Homo sapiens: one gene and its partners. The protein of the gene in region 3 interacts with the protein of the main gene of each other region in a biochemical or structural test. Each region holds a gene or a part of one and is shown on either strand. Other genes may lie near its edges.

Evidence for each region.
Region 1: the proteins of UTRN (region 3) and MARK2 form a complex in vitro, tested with the Homo sapiens proteins (one study listed by BioGRID).
Region 2: the proteins of UTRN (region 3) and DTNA form a complex in vitro, tested with the Homo sapiens proteins (one study listed by BioGRID and IntAct).

The regions. Positions count from the first base shown.
Region 1 is NC_000011.10:63,891,089-63,898,200, reverse strand, and holds part of MARK2 (serine/threonine-protein kinase MARK2), read right to left. Parts: intron 3,043-7,112; coding exon 2,863-3,042; intron 2,622-2,862; coding exon 2,568-2,621; intron 1-2,567. UniProt on the Homo sapiens protein: Serine/threonine-protein kinase. Involved in cell polarity and microtubule dynamics regulation. Phosphorylates CRTC2/TORC2, DCX, HDAC7, KIF13B, MAP2, MAP4 and RAB11FIP2. Phosphorylates the microtubule-associated protein MAPT/TAU.
Region 2 is NC_000018.10:34,706,024-34,713,311, reverse strand, and holds the start of DTNA (dystrobrevin alpha), read right to left. Parts: upstream 3,015-7,288; 5' UTR 2,867-3,014; intron 1-2,866. UniProt on the Homo sapiens protein: May be involved in the formation and stability of synapses as well as being involved in the clustering of nicotinic acetylcholine receptors.
Region 3 is NC_000006.12:144,288,310-144,295,421, reverse strand, and holds part of UTRN (utrophin), read right to left. Parts: intron 3,686-7,112; 5' UTR 3,594-3,685; coding exon 3,515-3,593; intron 1-3,514.

The DNA of each region.
Region 1 (7,112 bases), on a different chromosome or scaffold from region 3:
CCCAACTTGCTCCCATCAGGTCTCTCCAAACAGTCCCTGCCAGGATTTGTTTTTCCCAAAAAACCAAAACCGGGCAGGGAAAAGAAAATAGGGTGGTTGTCTAGCTCATGCACGGCCTTCCCTGTGGCTGGGAAGTTGGGGAAGCTGGAGGAGGGCTGGCTGTGGGGACGTGCTACCCGGGATGGCATCAGGATGAGCCAGCCATGCCCTCTGCTGCGTCTACCAAATCCAGCCCCAAAACAGCAGGCAGGTTTTGGCTGGGTGCCTCTACTGGAGGGAGTGTGAGCCCGTGTGCGTGAATATTCAGAATCCGAGCTGCTGCCTTGGTTCAGTGACAGTACACACCCCAGCTTGGTCTGTGTAAAGGGGTGGTAGAGCACCAGAGGGGGACCCCATCATTTTCTGATTTACAGTAGTCAGAGGGCTCTGTTCTAGGGGATAGGCCTTTCCTTCCTGGGCCTCTAGGGTGGTGACAGAAGAAGCCACTCCTATATATAGCTGATGCCAATTTTAATCAAATCCACCTCCACACACTCACGCTCTCTTTGTGAAACAAAACCAGGGGCTCCAAACCATGTATTTCCATAAAGAAAGATGACAGAAATGAACTCCTTCCCCTCTGCGGGGGCCAGAGAACTGGAGGTGGGGCTTTTTGTAATTTCAGGCCTCATCACTTGCACAAAGAACAGAACTAGTTTTTGTTGTTGTTTTTGTTGGGGGTAGGGGAAGCCCTAATTCAAGATATGGTTTATGGAATAAAGTGAATACATTTGTTTCCCCTTTAATGATGCCCCAGAGCTTTCCTAAGCTAGAAAGGAAAAGAAGAAAAAGGCTTTCCAATCCTCAGGAACCCAATGCTGACCTTACCCTTTATTAGGGCCTAGGTTTTTCTTACTTTTTTCCCTGGTCCAACAGATATTTTGGATGGAGAGGCAAAAAGCCTGGATACCACCCTCTGGGGCAGTAATGGGGAGCAGCTCTGAAATAGGGCCAGAGGCAGCTGCCAGGGCTTCTTCCCCTGAGGCTGCTCACCTGGCATGGAAGTGACATTCTTCTGGGAGAACTTGGGGTTTTCTGGGCTTGTCTAGACCCCTGAGGGGGCTAGCTTCTTCAATGTTCATTTTTCAGGGATCATTGCTGAGATCACATTTTTGGCCAGAATCAGACTGGCTTTAGTAACAAAGAGTCTCAAAAGGTTTTGAAAATGGCTCTATTTGTCTGGTGTTGGTGCCTTCCAGAGAGTCAGGAAGAATTAGGGAGAAAACCAAGAAGAATTAGGGAGAAAAACAAGGTCAGGAATAAGATGGCTTGGTGGACTGGCGATTATTACGATGGCAGGCTAGACTGCTCCCAAGGCCAAATGGCCTACCCCACGCTGACTTCTTCTGTGGGGCTGGAGCCAGGATGTCATAAGCAGCCCTTTTTCCCTTCCTCCTGGAAAGCTTCAAGCAGAGACACCCTGATGATGACAACAATGTTTCTACTGAACTGAAGAACCCTTGAAGGGATCCCAGGGGTAACAATAAATAGGAAACACCTTGGTTCTGGCTATTTGCATGTCCGGAGAACAACTCATCCACTCTAATTCCATGAGCATCGCCCTCAACAACAATCCTCAGCCCTTACTCCTAAGGTTCCCAGTATCACTATCTGACTCTGTTAGCACGAATCATGCCTTCTCCTAACTCAACTGCCACAATATGCTTATGGAGAAAATATCTGATTTGCCACAAGATGAACAGAACTAGGTTTTGTTCAGAAAATTTGAGCTGGAGCTCATTCTCTAAAAGGTAGCTGGCACAGAACCCACCGGCAGGTTCCCTGCTTCCTCTTATTCTTGTATTTCTAAAGCCACTCCCCTGTATCATTCCAGATCTTGAAGTAGCTGCACGTGTTTCTAGTAGTGGCTACAAACATGTGTTTTTGCATAGGGCTGGCCACAAGCCAGAAGATAACAAGATGCAGGAAGTAGGTCAGACAGGTAGGCCAAGTGGCTGGGAATGAACAGAAAGACTTCACAAGAGCCAGTGCCTATGGCCAGGAAGCCCACTCAGGAGGAGTCACCACAGATGATCCAACCAAAGCCCCGAAGGTAGCAGAGCCATGGGAGGGAATGGTTGGGGGACGGTGAGCGAAATGGCCAGAAAATTTAAACTAGGAATTCAAGAGAAGGTCTAAATGGGGTCAGTAGATCATTGACCCCAGAAGAGAGATTTAGAAAGGGACAGGTGGGCTGGGGGCAGTGGTTCACGCCTATAATCCTAGCACTTTGGGAGGCCGAGGCGAGCGGATCACTTGAGGTCAGGAGTTCGAGACCAGCCTGGCTACCATGGTGAAACCCCATCTCTACTAAAAATACAAAACTTAGCCAGGTGTGGTGGCGGGTGCCTATAATCCCAGCTACTCGGGAGGCTGAGGCGGGAGAATCGCTTGAAACCAAAAGGCGGAGGTTGCAGTGAGCCGAGATCACACCATTGCACTCCAGCCTGGGCGACAAGAGTGAGGCTCTGACTCAAAAAAAAAAAAAAAAAAAAAAAAAAAAGGGACAGGAGGTGCCATGTGCTTACTTTCTGGAGGCTGGAGGAGTTCAGTTGAGTCTTGTCAATGATCTTCACAGCTACCTGAGGATGAGACAAAAAGGCCCCAAATCACTTCTCTGACCAGCGAAACCCAGGATTCCAATCTACTTCCTCCTTTATATTTCTTACTCCTTTTCATCCCACAGCTTTTTGCACCCCTATATCTCAGATCTCATTTCTGCCGGATAAACAAGAGGTTGGCTGCAGTAGTAGTCCCATCACCACCTGCTGGAGTGTCAACAGGGCTGGGAGGTGCTGCCATGTCCCCAGTCCCAGTGCTCACCTCTTTCCCAGTCAGGATGTGTCGGGCCAACTTCACCTTGGCAAAATTACCCTTGCCAATGGTCTTGAGGAGCCGGTAGTTTCCAATGTGGGGCTGCTCATCAGCAGAGGTGGCTGAGTTGCGGCCCCGAATCATGTTGGACTTACTGCTGGGCTTGGAGTCAAGGTGTCCCAAGGTGGGCTGCGGGGTGGAAACAGAGATACCATTACATGCCACACTTCCAGTCCTCTAAACGCTCTCTGCAAAATATATAAGGGATGAGGGTGCAGGGGCAGATTCCAGGGGGCTGGTAGGCATGTGAAGAATGATATGGCAGCAGAAGAAAGGAGAGGGGGCTGAGGTGACAGCCAGTCTTCACTCCAGAGAAGCACATCATAAGGTCCAGTGCCCAGGTCCTGTGGGTGGCAAAGCTCAGGAGCAGAGCTGTCCCATCACTGGCTCCCTGAACCTCCATTGGCAACACAACAGCTCGTCTGGTTCAGGAGGGAGAGCCGGTACCCTGCCTCCCTCCATGCTGCCTGTGCACACTGCGAGAAGACTGCATCTCAAAGTCATGGTAGCTACATGGTCATAACTGCTTCAACGCCCTCATCGCCACCCAAAACTTACATGAACCTTTATTTTTTATTTATTTATTTTTTTGAGACAGAGCTTTACTCTTGTTGCCCAGGCTGGAGTGCAATGGTGCGATCTCAGCTCACCGCAACCTCCACCTCCCGGGTTCAAGCAATTCTCCCACCTCAGCCTCCCGAGTAGCTGGGATTACAGTCATGCGCCACCACGCCTGGCTAATTTTGTATTTTCAATAGAGATAGGGTTTCTCCATGTTGGTCAGGCTGGTCTCAAACTCCTGATCTCAGGTGATCCGCCCGCCTTGGCCTCCCAAAGTGCTGGAATTACAGGCGTGAGCCACTGCGCCCAGCCATAATAACTTTGTTGGGTAGAAACGTAGTAGCCCTTCCTGCATGGAAGGACTGCATGGCCGAAGTCGAACCCGAGTCTCCCGCGTAGGAGACGAAATTTCTGCCGCTGAACTACGAATGCCCCACTGAACCTTTGTTATTTATCACTTTACATTTATTTGCCATCTCCCCCAGTAAAAATGGAAGCACATGAAAGCAGGCATATATTCTTTATTCACTGATACATCCCAGCACTTAGAGAGACTGGCTTATGTTTGCTGCTCAATGAATACTTGTACAATGAAAGAACTGAACGATTAGGTCTGAGCAAGGCAGCAGTCTGCCCTGCTCTGCCACCCGGCTCAAATGAGGGGATGAGGAAGCAGAAGCTACAACTACCAGCACTGAAGAGGCATATAAACATAATACGGGTTGAATATCCTTTATCCAAAATGCTTAGGACCAGAAACGTGGCAGATTTTAAATTGTTTTGGATTTTGGAATATTTGCATATACATAATCAGATATCTCAGGGATGGGACCCAAGTCTAAACATTTATTTTTCATGTGTACATTATATACATGGCCTGAAGGTAATTTCATGACATTTTAAAATAATTTTGTGCATGAAATAAAGTGATTGAATTTTGCTTATAACCTGTCATATGGGGTTACGTGTAGAATTTTCCACTTGTGGCATCATGCTGGCACTCAAAAAGTTTAGATTTTGGAGCATTTTGGCTTTTGGATTACGGATGTTCAACCTGTACAAAAAGGGTATGGTCTAGACAAAAAACATACATCTATGTGAAGACGTGTACATTCCTCAAAGTGCTAAACACAGACTATATGAGCCAGCAATTCCGCTCCTCAGTATATACAAAAGAGAAATGAAAACAGAAATCCACAAAAAACCTGTAACCAAGGTTCACAGCACCATAATCCATAATAGTCAAAAAGTGGAAACAATTCAAATGCCCATCAGCTGGATGAACGGATAGACAAACGTAGCATATCCTTACCGGGGAATATTGGTTGGCAGTAAAAAAGAATATATGCTACAACACAGAAGAAACTTGGATAAACTTATGGTATCTCACTAAAACTGTTCAGAGTCTAGGCCAGGCAAGGTAGCTCATGCCTAAATCCCAGCACTTTAGGAGGCTGAGGCAGGAGGATCACTTGAGGCCAGGAGCTTGAGACGAGCCTGGGCAACATAGGGAGACTCTGTCTCTACAAAAAATTAAGAAATTAAGAAATCTTGGGAGGTTGAGGCAGGTGGATTGCTTGAGGTCAGGAGTTCGAGACCAGCCTGGCCAACATAGTAAAACCTTGTCTCTACTAAAAATACAAAAAATTAGCTGGGCATGGTGGATTACAGGTGCCTGTAATCCCAGCTACTAGGGAGGCTGAGGCAGGAGAATTGCTTGAACCCAGGAGGAGGAGGTTACAGTGAGCTGAGATCGCACCACTGCACTCCAGCCTGGGCAACAAGAGTGAAACTCCGTCTCAAAAAAAAAAAAAAAAAAAAATTAAGAAATCAACTGGGTGTGGTGGCATGCACCTATAGTCCCAGCTGCTCTGGAGGATGAGGCGGGAGGATCGCTTGAACCCAGGAGGAGTTCGAGGCTGCAGTGAGCCATGATCATGCCATTGTACTCCAGCCTGGGTGATAGAGCGAGACCCTGTCTCAAAAAAAAAAAAAAAAAATGCAGAGTCTGGTCTAACTCCTGATTAGCGCCCTGGTTTACATCTCACAAAGAACATCTGGAGCGATCGCTCCAGCATACTGCAACAAAGCATATGAGGCCAGAGCCTCATCCCAGAACCATCCAGAGCTGCCTTGGAAACTTCAAGGAAACAGTCTGGAGGGCAGCAGGGTGACCAGAGGAGTGTGAGTGAAAGTTCTTCCTTTCATGGCCCCTGCTGGCTGTACGTGAAGCACTCAAAAACCACAGAGAAAAAAAGAATGACTTGCTACTACCCAAGGAACTGTCCAGCATTCCTAGACAAGAAGCTTGCTAGCTCAACCAGATGCTTTTCAGGCAGAAACGACAGCAGCAAGTTAAGTACAGTATCCTGATTCTGACATTTCCCCTTCTTCACTGTGCCCACGTAGGGCCTTTGCATGGTAGCTGCAGGCTGTCTTTTGGTGAGCTGTTTGACCAGATCCCAGAAACACATGGGGTTGGACCTTGGAGGAGGAAGATCCCATGCATTTGGTAGATGTTTGAAGGGGGAGGCTCCTCACATCCCAGAAGAGGCCCTTTTAACTTCCTTCTCTCTTCCTCATCAACCTTTGCATCTCCATGAAGCCCCCCAGCTCTTATTGTCTGCTCATTCCAGCCCACAGAGCTCTCTGGTGCTCTGTTCTCCACGCACCCTGTAGCTCACCTAAGCCTGGTTGGTCCTCAAACAGTGTCTGCAAGACAAGTGGATTTTTAAATACCTGCTTTTTTCCCTTCCAAAGGAACTCTAGGGTTCACACCCCTTGGAGAGAAGGGCATTTCTAGGCCCTGCTGGCACCTGATTGGGCCAGCCTCCTGAAGGGTACCCTAGCCCTGTCCAGCAGGGTACTGAAAGCCTGGTCTCCTCAGGCTACCTTTTTCTCAGCCCCATCCTCCCTTTCAGTGCTGCTAGACTGCCTCCAACCCTACCCATCTGCCTAACGGGCAATGAACAGGAAAAAACCTTCCTTCTGCCCCAACTCCTACGAGAGGAAGATGGGTGGGAAAGTTTCCTTGGCAACCTCTAGTTCACCTTCTAAGTTTGTTGTCACTCCCTGTTTCTCCGAGGATATAAGCCCAAGGCAGCAGGAAGTGTGACGGTCTCTAAGTTCTCAAAATCCAGACCAGGGATTTAGCATCTACCTGCAGACTTGGGCCTTTTGCCAACTGAGACCAAATCTGGGCATCCCATGCCCATCCTGAGCTCTGCTCTGCCCATCCCTCTTGGTGAACCGAGGGGCTGGTCTGTGTGGCACAGCAGGTCAGCATTCCCTGCCTGGCCCTGCTGCACAAGTGGGCCTCAAGGAGCTTAACAACCACAAGCAAGATTGTACCATTCATTCTCTTCCTTTCTGGTTAAGACTGTAGATGTCGGAGATAAGCTGCCAGGTTTCAAATCCTAAATCTGTCACCTACTCAGCACATATTAACTTTATTATTATCATCAACATCATCAAGCCAGGCACAGTGGCTCATGCCTTTACAGGCAGCACTTAGGGAGGCAGAGGCAGGAGGATAGCTTGAGCCCAAGAGTTCAAGACCTGCTGTTCACAAAAAGGAAAAAAAAAAAAGAATATATTTAAAAAGGCAATACAGTGAGACCCCCATTCACAAAAAGGAA
Region 2 (7,288 bases), on a different chromosome or scaffold from region 3:
ATTAAATTTGAGGGTTAATTTCTGAGAATCATACTACCCATTAGTAATTTCCACTTTCCTTCTAAGAGCATTGGCCTTTTACTACACAAAGAGGCAAGAGCTTTCTAATCTATCTTATTCTCCAAATTAATCATTATTGTCGTTATCATTATCATCATGATCATGGTACCATTACTTTCTTTTTCATTTGAAAAGTCTTAGATTTCTAAAAAAAAAATCCAATTCTTTTCATGTCAAAAATTACATAGTGGTCAATAATAAAATTCACCTTAATAAAATCGGAGGTTAAAAAATAACTCCTAAAAATGGAGTATCTAGATGATATTGAGTCATCATTCATTGGCTTGATCTTCATCTATTTTAGAAATATTTTCTTGGAATTTAAATATCATTAATTTTTTAGCAGAGGCTATACTATTTTACTCAATATGGTTGTTTTTTAACATGTTAAAAAACTGTTAAATATCTGTCTCCTTAGTAGAGGTAAATGTTTGCAGATAATTATCTATTGGTCTATGACTCTAGGCAGCTCTAGAGATTAAAGCTAAAATGTTAACAAACACTACAAATTATTCAAAATTAACAAGAAAGCATAATTTAAACAAGAGTTGAAACAAATACTGTACAATTAAAACATCCTGGCAAAATTTACAGTTTAAAGCAAGTACATCAAAAGTCAATTTTGCTTCTTAAGAATGAAAATACCAAAACAACTATAAAAGAATCTTCCATCTTGTGATCTCTGTTAAAATTATTTCAGAAGTTTTTGTGTACATATGGTCTAATGTCAGATGAATAAAGATCACAGAAATTTGGGCATATCTTGGTTTTTACACACTTGTAGCTCTAATATCTAAGCTGGCTGGTAGCCCATAACTACAAAGACTGAGACAACCTCACTGTAGATTTTTTTTCATTTTATTTAATAGAAAGGAACTATCTATACTTTATCATGTATTTTAAAGATGGAATAGTGAAATAAAAATACTTTTTAGTAATTTCCCTCATCCATACTACTCTCTTCTCTGACAGATACAGATTTAACCCTTTCCAGTACCGGCGGGAAAGAAAAATGCTTGGGTAAGAGATCATTTACACTTTTATCTTTACCTTTTGTATATCTTTTCATTTTTTTGTCTCTCTCTGTGTCTCTGTCTTGCTTCTTCTTTCCCTCTTTTATTTTTCTTTTAATAAAACATAACACTTTCTACCTCAGATATTGTCAGTTTCAATAATTTCATACTTTAGAATAGTTTACCAGGTACCATCTTTCACTGATTTTTAGAAACTCCCTATTCTCTAGTAGTAACAACTTATGTTTATGAAAATATCTCATGTTTTGAAAGACATGGTCATAGCTCATTTGTACTCAAACAACAAAGGGAAAAAGAAAGGAATAAATTCAGATACAAGCATGAACATTTACAATATTAGATGCTATTATAGTACTTTTGATATCTGTCATCATGGAAACAGTTCTCTTTATTTGAAATCATGGCAAATAATTTTTTTGAATAATGATTATAATTCCTTGCTTAAACTTAGAAAATGGCTTGGACATATGGAAACTAGAGAGATCAAGGAAATAGCGACGAAAATCACAGAGCATAAATAAATTTAATAAAATCTAAGTTTTCCTTTTGTAAGAAAGCATGCTGTATGAACAAACTTGGGAAAATTTATTGGCTTTTATCCTAATTAGTGCCAATTAAGGGCACATAATTGATTTTAGTTCACTAAGAAAGTATTTTTCAAAAAGATTTTCCTATATCTGCACTTTTTCAGGTGGACAGTGAATACACTAGAATAACAGTAGGGCTTTGCTACTATTTAATTAGGTTTTATTTCTAAAAGCTGCTAAGACAGCTTTGTTCTAAGAGGAAGGAAAGAAGTTGCATTAAGTAAACCCCTGGCTAAAATTAGAGTAAATCCTAATATCTTATGAGAAAGTCAAACATCAAACATCAAACATCAGTAAAAGCCATGAAAAAGTAATTAAAATAAGTTATTATTAAAGAAATTGTTCTCCTTTAACTTGCTCTGTGTGTACCAAAGCCTCCCATTTTGAAACAAGCTGCCAGGGTGATATGTAAACAACGCATGAGAAGGCGTCTGCGCTCTGGGAATTGATGCTCCACACAGCCACACTGAATTGTTTACATTCAGTTCCTACCAGCCTCTAAGCAAAAGAGTTCATTTTGCACTCACCCATGTTGTATTTACTTCTATTTTTAAATCCTGTATCACACATACAGCCACAATGCCTAAAAGATTAGAATGCTAATAGAAATAATAGATGTTTTAAAAAATATAGATAAAACCGGACTATACATGTTAGATGAGGCTCGCAATAATATGATGAAAGAAAAACAAAAGCTCACATACAATAAACACACTAGATAACTTTGCTGGAAAACTTTGTCCTACTGCTTAATTTAGTAGAAGAGACAAGTAGCTTTGGACAAATGCCACTAATAAGGTGTCCTCTAAGAAAAGCGGACCATTTTCAAAAAACAAAACAAGAAAACACTTTGTTCAGGTCTACGCTGATTTGAAGACACCAGTTATTGCATTCTTATTACTTCCTTTGCAGTTTTCTTTCTTTGACTTACACACACACACACACACACACACACTCCCACACACACACACTGCCATAAAACTATAACATTTCACAACATCTTAGACTTTCAAATTAAAAACAGCTGAAACCGGAGGTGGAGGAGCTAGGAGGGTGGGCAGGAGAAATTTATCGGGTGCCCATGTGGGGGTGGGGGTGGGGGCGACAGTGAAATTCCACCCAGCAAGTTATGCCACTGCGACAGAAGTCAGAGAGTTCAGTTTCATAGATTCAATTGTACCTTACCTGGTTTTGTAGTTAAATGCACCAACATGCCCCTTAATTCTTCCTCTGAAGTACTACATATGCTGAAAACTATAGTATTTGACCTTACACATTTCCAAACAAACTCCAAAGTAACCTTTAACTTCAATAAAAAGCTGTGTTCATTCTTCCCCTTGTGCTCAACACACAGCAATCTAATACACCTCATCATGTGGTCCGTTACCATGGTAGCAATGAATCCAGCTGCTGAAATACAAAAGACTGACAAAAAGTTGCTTTTTTCCCCTCCACCCACCCTGACAAAGTCAGATTTTTTTTTCTGTATGACAAGTCTAATTTGAATATGCTTCTCTTGCTGACTCAACTTCATGAACAAGAAAAAAATAACAGAAGTATAAGAATAAAAGGTTTCCCAACTAACTAATGAAATATCTCTATGCATTTTAAGTCACCATTAATCTTTTGAAATACTGATCATTATCTACTACATCAGCCAACTAAATATTTTTAAATGTCAGTTACTAACTCAATAGGAAATGCAGCAATAATCCCACAGCTCCTTTAGAAACATTAAAAAATGCAGTAATGTATTCAGTAAACACAGATGCTGAAAACACTACATCAGTGTATGAAGGGCTAGTTTCAAAGTGCTTTTTTTCTAGAGCAAACTTCTAATCACAGCTTAGATGTGGGAGGTAAAATTCTTCATTTTCTTTTCATCAAAACCCTGTGTTTAACTGTTATTTAAACAGATTTCAGTTCTTTTAAAATTTATCATTTAAATTTAAAGCAGGCAACACAGCCTGCTGGAATCGATCAGGCTATATTTGCTGAGGTGGGGAGGGCTCTATATTAAGAGCAGCAGTCTTGGATTTGAAACGATACAAACTCTGAGCAATCCTGGGACTCCCCAAACCAATGGCTATGTAGTTAGGATTTAAGGAATCACCTTCAGCGCATTACCAGTCCTTTAGGGAAAAGCTGAAGGAGTCCCAGGTGACTGGAGCTTCCCCGCTTGCCAGCATGTCAGCATGGTCCTTCCTCCCACCATGGTACATTAATCAGCCAGTGGGTGCCCCCGTCCTCCAGGGATGGCTACTTCATCCCTCAGGCCTCGCATAATCACTCTGCTCTTGCACAACCTTCCTTATTTCCCAAACTTAGCTTACATTTCACAATAATTTGTTTGCATATCTATCTTCTCTCTTTAGAGATGGACTCCCAGAGGAACAGGAACATTGTCTTACTCATCTTTCTCTACCAAGTAACCATCAAAAGACTTGGCACTAGGTAGGGCTACTTCTTCAATGGATAAAGATGGCATCTGAAAGCTTTCCCTCAACTCCTCCAGGACTGTCTTCAGAGCATGGCTTGCTGTGGTTAAACCCTTCAGAGATCTGCACAGAATTTTTCTTAGTACATCACATCACAAAGAGAGGCAAGGCAGAGGAGTTCTTAAGAAGAGCAATTGTGGAATCAAGCAGATGCGGATTTGAAATCTGGCTCTAGCCCATACTACTTTTGTGATCTTGGATAGGTTACTTAACCTCTCTAACCCTCAGTTTACTCTTCTGTAAAATTCCTACTTTAACAAGGAATGGAAATGGATTAAATGAGATAGTCCAAGGGAAGCACCAAGCTTGAAGCATACTAAATGCTCAATAAATTCTGGCTAGTATTATTTAGTCAATATGTGATTTTTGAACAAGAGGGACCATGAGAAAGCTGACTGGCACGTGACTTCCCTTTGCTGAATAAACTGTCATTTTCAACAAGATGTGCATTAACAATCCTATGTTTCCTAACATAGGTTTACATAACAACACAGCATAAATATAGAGACCTTTTTAGGCAAAGAGCAAGGGCTGCTTGCTCCAACCTACAAACCAGCTAGGAGCAACTGATCAGTCAGAAGGTTAAGCATATTTCTAGTATGAAATGGACTGTGGGAAGAATGTTAAACATGGTAGTTAATTTTTTTCATCTTTAAATATGGAAGAAAAACACAAGTACAGCAGTTCATTGTGGTATTCATTTTGGATTCTTAAAAAATGGTCTATATGTTATTTGTTAATGATACTTTCTCAAATTAAGATGAACTGTAAAGAATCTTCATCATAAAGGGCTTTAAAATATAAATTATATACATAGATTACATTTCTAGTAATTAACCAATATTGTGTCAATAGAAGCCTTTACAAGGTCACCTTGATCTCTAACAAGTACTGTAAACTGCTCACCAGTGTAGACTTTTAGCTGCTTCTCTCCATCGTAATCAAATTCAGGAAATTACCTGACACCAAAGCCAATGGTATAGGAAAATTAGCATTAAAATCCCTTTGAAGAATATGGTACAAAGAAGCAGCCAGGGGTTAAAAAAGCCTGTGGTAGAAAAAAACAATTTTATTTTTCATTGCAGGAAGTTACCAGAAAGAATAAAGTGAATGTTGCACATTGCAAGATTTCTCTATCATTAAAAAGTAAGTAAGAAAGAAAAGCCCCACAACAAATCAGTTGGGATGATTAAAATAGCTTTGGCACTGCTCCAACCTTGAAAAATCCTTCAGCGCGGTGACTCATGATGATCCAATCCAAAAAAATGTGTGAGGCCGACCAGGCAAAAAGGCAAGGAGCAGCTACACCGGAAAATTAGCACTCCCTAATCCTCTTCAAAACAGTTGATGAAGGAGAGACTATTTGAATAATTTGAACCCCAATTTGAATAATTCATACCTATTCTCATGTGTGGCTGGCTGAATAGAGACTCTCACTGACTGCATTCATTTCATCAGGAGTGTTTACCTTGTACATTTTTTTCCCCTGGAGATTGGTTATGTGGCCATTACACGTATCTAATTGTTTTTCATTTTGTAAATGTAAGAGCTTATCATTTATCTAGTTAAGGTACACTGTTACTAGAGCATTTAATATGATTGATTGCCAAACAGAAGGTGCATCCTTTGTCAGATGTTAAAGTGACTGTTGATTCTTTAACCCCTAGGGAATACGACGCCAGTATATTTGGTTTCACAAAGTTTTAAATCCCCTTTTGCAAATGTTAAAATTAAACTTCCCCCTCATGTGAACAAAATATGCAACATAATCTGTGCTCTTGTGACCCACTTAATTTCATATGAAGAATTCAATCACTTAGAAAAAGTTTTTGAGACATAGGTAATGATGCTTCAGAAGGTACCCCAGGAAGTCAATTTGCCAAATCCTAGTCCCATAGAAGCAGGAGGGAGCTTCAAAGTTATATGCTTCACTGCCCTCTCTTCAGATGTGAGAGCACCTAATTTCCTACAAACTCAAGGTAACAACATGGGCTCAGAAGTCACGCGCTTAAATTAAGCAACATGGCTGCAAAAAACGTTGATGGCCAATGTTAATGAAATTAAAACAAGCAAAACAATTTGAACCTCTGAAAATGCAATTTTCACATCATAGTTAAAAATTATTATTTATTTTTTCATACCACAAAGTGCTTTATTGTTAGGGCACTGGTTTAAATTAAAAAAGAAAGTGTGTTGACAGCAACAAAAAAAGATTGTGATCTACTGAACAATTTTTGCAAGCACATTGTTTCTTGGGCCACTTTGAGCAGCTGACCTAAAAAATATTAATCGGATTAGTATCTATTCTGCTCATAAAAATTTCTTATGAAAGAACAAGTCTGTTGCAAGCCATCTCAATTTATACAATTTAATATCAAGATATTCTATTTTACCCTTAAGATATTTCAAACATGCACTTTTCCTTTGAATTGTAACAATGGGGCTATAAATAATAAGGATTTCTTTATGTTTTTCTTCTGTGAGTACATCACAGAAAATATCCGTTTTTAAATAACACTATGAAATTGATGGCTCCATATCTTACAGATAACCTATTGTGAACTCTGAATCATTTTGCCATATCATTTTTGGAAATTTATCCTCAAGCCTCTGTTTTTGTATTTTTTCATGTGTTTAAAAATTATAATTATATACTTATATTCTGAATGTATTCTTAGTGAAAAATACGTTGGTTTTTAAACTTAATAATAAAAACTTGTAACTTTCCATGTTCTCATGAAAAGATAATGTTACATGTCCATTGTAGAGAAGTTGAAAAATACAGAAAACATTTGTGAAATAATATTAAAAGCACTTATAATTCAACTATCAGAAATAACAAGTATCAACATTTTGATGTATTTCTTCATACATTAAAAATTCATGGCTGGGAGCGGTGGCTCATGCCTGTAATCCCAGCACTTTGGGAGGCCGAGGCGAGTGGATCACCTGAGGTCGGGAGTTCAAGACCAGCCTGACCAACATGGAAGAACCCCGTCTCTGCTAAAAATACAAAATTAGCTGGGCATGGTGGCGTATTGCCTGTAATCCCAGCTACTTGGAAGGCTGAGGCAGGAGAATCGCTTGTACCTGGGAGGCGGAGGTTGCG
Region 3 (7,112 bases):
ACATGGAGCCAGCTGACACACTGTCCTTAGCCCTGAGGTCTACTCTTTCTACAGGGCTCTGGGATAAAACCACAACAACACTGACAGCAACAGAAAAGGATGACTTATTCTGTGTTACTAGCTTTAATGTATGTTAATTATTGAATGAAATAGCAGTGAGGATATTCTTCGATTGTATATGCATCCCAAACCATTTTATTATTTCATGTTTAAAATGTTCCAAGCAGTACTTTCTGCATCACACACTCTACTGGCAATAAATTTCACTTTTTAAAAATTCTTAGTCTTGGCCTATTGTTTCAAAATATTTACTAACTTGTTGAACTTTCTAAAGCCTACTAATTAAGGCTGTTAATAATACAGTACTTGATGATGAACTTGGCATATGTGCTTTTAAGTTAGAGAAAGACAGGTCTACTTTTACCCAACACCAAATCCTTGGTCATTATAGATCAAATTCTTTCCAGTTCCTTTCTAACACTCACCCAAACCCAAGGCAAGTATACTACAACCATAAATAAATACATGGCTTTGTATTTATGAAACTACTTCATTACGTACCCTTGACAACTTCCTATTTCTGTTTAGATGGTAGAAATGGCTTTAAAATTATAAAATTTAAAAAATTATAATATTCAAAATGGCATGAAACAAAGTAATACTAAGTGAGGACAATAAAAATAATCACAATAACTTAACATAAAATGCATAGACATTTTTATTATGCCAATTTAATTATGCCAGCCTTTTGGATTGTCCAAACTCGAGGATTTGGAGAGCAGAAACCACACTCTCCGTCCCCCCACTTTCATCCAATTTCCCCCCAAAAAAGAAACCTGGAAGAGCAGATGAGGATCAAAATTTTCCTAAAGGAAAGTATTCCCTTTTAAAAAATGGAAAAGCAACCAATTTGGCATACAGCATGTAGACAGAGGATCTTTAAAATACATATATGATATGTAGACAATTCCTATGACTTAATCTAAACTAAAAATCTCTTAAAATATGTAAGTTTTAGAGTACCATGAAATATTACCTCTGTATAGTAAGCATTTGCCTTAAAAGAATCAAAAAAAGTCCCTTAGAGGAAGCCAGATTGGGACTAATGGGTCCATTCAAATCCAAATTTATCTACTGGCTTTTGCAACATAATTCAGCCAAAAGAATGTGATTCATATCTGAGCTATGTAACAACTAAATTTTCAGTGTGTTTTGAAGTAGATGCCACCACAAAAAAAGTAATAGTCATAACCTTGGCATCTAAACACTCTAAGCAATTTGATAATCTTTAAAAATATAAGAACTCAGTAATGTGGGTTCATTGAAGAACTTTAGAAAATATAAATCAGCAAAAAAAAAAGTAATAATCTCAAATGCCAAGATGACCACTATTAACATTTATTGTATACTTCACTAAATTTTTAAAAAACATTTTTCATATAAATGACTTCATATAATACATACTTGTTTACTTACTATATCAAGAACACATTTCTATATTCATACACACACACACACACACACACATCACACACATCTGTATCACTTTTTATGAATGCTTAATCTTCTACTTTATGGATATACCCTAATTTAGTTACCTCTACTGAGATCATGTATGATCTGTTCAGATGTGCTAGAGTAAAGAAACAGAATAATAGGTTTAAACAACTATTTCCTAAAGCTATTTGACCATAACATCCTTTTGTGAATTACACATTAACAATCCTAGAACTTTTGATCTTTTCGAAATACTTTGGGAAATAATGATCTAACCAATTCCTAATATTAGATTTTCATGGTGTTTACAATGTTTTCTATTATAAATGATACTGTGATCAATTTCTTGAGTGTACCTTTTTATGTATTGCCTAGGGAAAAACTCTAGAAACAGAATTACTCAGTTAATTGATATGCATGTGTTAAAAACATGTTATCATTTTTGCCAAATTGTTCTCCAGCAATATTTTAGGTTCATCAGCCTTTTTAAAAGATAATTTTAAATTAAAATAGTTTGGGAGTTTATATGTTCATTATATATACACGGTATTTCTGAAATTAGATAATTACTCTTTTATGGACACGGCTAAAGTACAAGTTATAAATATCAAAGGTCTTACTAGAATGAAGGCTGACTCAGAAAACTATTTAGGAATATACCTCCTCACAATTTATAGAAAATGACTAGTATGGAGACATTAAATCGTCTCTCTTCCATTTTCCTCTGTTATATTTACATATGTCTGAATATGTATTCCGTACTCCTAAGATGATATTAATAATCCCTTACATTTTTGTAGTACCTTATACCACTAAAACATTTAAAACAAAAAGAATTTTACAGGAAGAGAACATCCTCAAAGCATATTTTAAAACAAGATATTAAGCTATACCTTCAAAAGACCCGTCAAGCTACACAATAGTTGCTACATATTTACAGCCAAATCTGTAATAACTAAAATCTTTATCAATCAACCAACACCGGTATCATGGAGGAAAATGTGTATTTTAAGACAGTTAATTTAGATCTTATTTTCACTGTGTATTTCTACAGTTTCACATAATAAGAAACAAGCTCCTAACAGAACATAAAGATGGTTCACACAGCAAAAACAGGCTTTGGGTTCCTTTTTTGTCTTTAAAGTGACACTGGATGTAATTTTATACCTCAAAGTAACTTTTCAAAGTTACTTAAGTATAGTGTTCACACTCAGGGTGGAGTTCTGTGTAATTTTCAAGGCTGAGAAGTGTTCTGCCTGTTCAAAAATATCTCCCCTTTGAGTTTGTCTCAGAATCATATTTGAAGCTTTTTAAAAATACAGAAATTTTTATTCAATGGGTCTGGAATGGAGCCAATGCATCTGCGTTTTTTAAAACTCCCCAGTTGATTCATCTGTACAGCCAGAGTCAAAAAGCACTCGGTTATATAAAAAGATTGGAGGAGGGGGTGGTATCCTGAGGACCCCAATTTAACTGTTCGTGTGAAAACCATGAATCTGTCTGAGTCTGGTTTATTAGATTACCTAGGTGAAAATTTTACCTTGAGAAGGCTCATAAGATATTTCAAGGTAGGACACCTGTTGGCCTATCAATGGCTATGAACAGGGATGGGGGTGAGGATATATGGTAATGAAATCAAACTGTGAAAGATCTTTCCTGCCAGAAACTGTGGCACTTCCTACATTAAGCATATAATCCCTTCAATTTCCAGAAAATAGAAAGAGAAATGTTCGGTCGTATTTTATTTTAATGGAGTAGTCTTCCAAATGAACAACCTTTAGCTACAAGCAGCAGTTTCACTAAGCACAAAATTGGGTTGAGAAAGGATAGGACACTCAGAGATATTATACCTTTTACATATACCTTTTACAAAATTATAGTCATTTGTCAGAATTCAGTTTCTTAAAAGAACTTCACCTCCAAGAAGTTCTTGCAAGAACAATGCAAATCAATCCAAGAAACATAGGTTTTCTAAATACATAAAAATCCATAGCTTTCTTGAGCTTCCTTTACCTACCAGATCTGGACTTAATGATATCACTGAATTCGTTCTGCCCATTGTCAGGACTGGCTTCATGTTCTCCATACTTGGCCATCTTGCCAGAGTTTCAAGATAATCCAAAAACTTTACCAAGTCCTCTTTCTAAGGCTTTCAACTTCCTACGATGGTTCAGCTTGACATCAATACCTAAAAGGAAAAGGGAAAGTACTGACTTGAAAAAATGTATTTATATATTTTATATAGTTATTCGTAGTAACTATTCATTCACCAAATATTTATTGAGTGCCTACCACGTGTAAAGCACCAAGCCAGGCAATGGTGTTATGACTATGAACAAGAGACATAGCCTCTGCCATTACGGCGCTTATGCACACTAAGCAATTAATTACATAATGAATTATTTCATTACAATACTGACAGACTACAAATCATACAAAGGAGAAGCACAGAGTATTAAGAGCACACAGCAGAGGAGTCTGACCTGCCCTGGGCAATTAGAGAAGGCTTTCTTGAAGAGACATTTGAGCCAAGCCTTTAAAGATGACAAGAATTTAATTAGCCAAAAAGGGAAACAGAAAGAGAAAAGGTAAGAGCTTCCTATGTGAAGTGGCAGAAAGAATCATGGAGCAGTCAAAGAATGGAGCACAAGCCAGTGTTTCTGGAAAGAAGACAGCCAAGAGACAAGTGTACCTGTTGAACCAGGTGAAGAAGCTGGGCAGGACCAGGGATAGGACCATGGAGAACAGGTCAAGGGTTTGTGTCTTTATCTGAAGAGCAATGGGGAGCCAGTAGATGGTTCGAAGGAGGGAACCAACATGGTCAAATTGGCCTTTTTAAAAGATCGTCAAGGGACGGGCACGGTGGCTCATGCCTGTAATCCCAGCACTTTGGGAGGCCGAGGCAGGTGGATCACGAGGTCAGGAGTTCGAGACCAGCCTGGCCAGCACAGTGAAACCCTGTCTCTACTAAAAATACAAAAAAAAAAAAAAAATTAGCCAGGCATGGTGGTGTGCACCTGTAATCCCAGCTACTCAGGAGGCTAATGCAGGAGAATTGCTTGAACCTGGGAGGTGGAAGTTGCAGTGAGCTGAGATCACGCCACTGCACTCCACCCTGGGCAACGAGAGTGAGACTCCATCTCAAAAAAAAAAAAAAAAAAAAAAAAAAAAAGACGATTGTGGCTTGTAGGTAGACCACAGTAATATGTGGGGAACCAGTGAAGACTATGGCAGAATATAGCAAAATGCAAATTAAGGAACCTAGCTCATGGGTATATGAATGCTGAATGAAAATTTCTTGCAACTCTTCTGTATGTCTGAGAATTTTTTCATAGTAATATGTTGGGGAAAAATTCCTAATCTTAACCAAGTGATCAAAATTCACATAACCAATCATGGGGCATCATGCAATTGAATGGAAAATCACCACATCATCTACACAATATCCTTGCCAAGATGTTGAACGTGAATCTTCTCATGAGCAGACAAATCTAGACTGTGGCTAGTTTTCAAAAGAAATGGCCTGGTTTCTTCAAAACTGTCAGCGTCTTGAAAACCAAAATTACCTGGGAGAGGGGGAGCTTTGTGAATTAAAGGAGACTAAATAGACATGACAATGAAATGTAATCTTTGATTGAATTCAGAATTTTAAAATAAAACATTTGAGGATCATTTGAAAAATCTGAATTTGGACTATGTATTAGACAATATTATTGTATCAATGTTAAATTTCTTTAACATTAATTATGGTATTGTTGCAGGAGAATGTCTTTGATTGTAAGAGACATGTGGTGAAATATTTAGCAATGAAGTGTGATGGTATCTTCAACTTAAGTTCAAACAGAATAGCATATATCTGTCTATACTGATATAGGTATATTTAGGTTGATATATGTATGTAGATGTATATATGCATACACACAGACAGACAGAAAAATGCAGTAAGTATTGTAAAATAAGTGGGAAAACTAGGCCGGGCAAGGTGGCTCACGCCTGTAATCCCAGCACTTTGGGAAGCCAAGGCAGGTGCATCACCTGAGTTCAGGAGTTCGAGACCAGCCTGGCCAACATGGTGAAACCCCATCTCTACTTAAAAAAAAATACAAAAATTAGCTGGGTGTGGTGGCAGGTGCCTGTAATCCCAGCTACTTGGGAGGCTGAGGCAGGAGAATCACTTGAATCCAGGAGGCGGTGGTTACAGTGAGCCGAAATTGTGCTATTACTCTCCAGCCTGGGTGACAAGGGCAAAATTCCATCTCAAAAAAAATAAAGTAAGTGGGAAAACTTGTTAAAGGGCATCTGGGTCTAGGCGAGGTGGCTCACACCTGTAATCCCAGTACTTTGGGAAGCTTAAGCGAGAGGATTACTTGAGCCCAGAAGTTTGAGATCAGCCTAGGCAACATGGTGAGACCTTGTCTCTACTCCATGTAAATAAAAATTTTAAATAATAAAATAAAATAAAATAAAAAGGACATCTGGGTGTTTATTGTGCTATTCTTTCTATTGTAATATTATATGCAGGAAACAAGTGTGGTCTAAACAAGAGTAGATAGAAAGAAATGGGTGAATATGTGGGATATTTAGATATCAAAGAAAGTCAATAGGATTTGGGAATTGATTGGATATGAGAGATTCATATCCAATGTGCAAAATGTGCAAAATGACTCCCCAATTTTGGCTTAGGCAATTAGGTGAAGTGTGAGTCATTGAGCTGGGCAACACTGAGGATAGCAGGCTGGGAGAAAGGAATCATCAATGTGATTTGGATTTGCAGAGCTTGAAATGCCTCTGAGTTATATAAGCGGAGATGACAAAAAGAGAGTTGGGCCCAGCATGGTGGCTCATGCCTGTAATCCCAGCTCTTTGGGAGGCTGAGGCAGGCAGATCACTTGAGGTCCAGAGTTCAAGACCAACCTGGCTAACACTTGAGGTCAAGAGTTTGAGACCAGCCTGGCCAACATGGCGAAACCCTGTCTCTACTAAAAATATAAAAATTAGCCAGGCATGGTGGCAAACACCTGTAATCCCAGCTACTCAGGAGGCTGAGGCAGGGGAATTGATTGAACTCAGGAGGTAAAGGTTGCAGTGGGCCAAGATCGCTGCCACTGCACTCCAGCCTTGACGACCGAGTGGGTGAGACTCCATCTCAAAAAAAAAAAAAAAAAAAAGAGAGAGAGAGAGAGTTGGATATAAAGGATTGGATCATCAATCTGACAGATTTTATGAGAGTCTAAAAAACTTTTTTCATTTTTTATAGGCTCTACTACTGCTAAAAATTTATGGATTATTATATGATTACATTCTTTCATTCAAGTACATAACTATAAAGGATTTGCTAAATTCTTAAGTGTATTTTATTATATTCAAGAATCAAAAACTTTGTTCAGAAGAATGTCTATAAAAGTTTATCATGGAAAATTAAGTTTGCCCAGGGAAAAATTCTCTTTCCTGGAAAGAACTACAGTGTATCACTTTGGAGCAGTAAGTCTAATGCTTTTCTTCACTATTGGTCTTAGCCAAGATCTCCACTTCTATGCTACCCAAAGCCTTTATTCACCCATAAAAGAGAAAAGTCAACTGTTTACACACTACTTTATTCCATTTGCCCATTATCA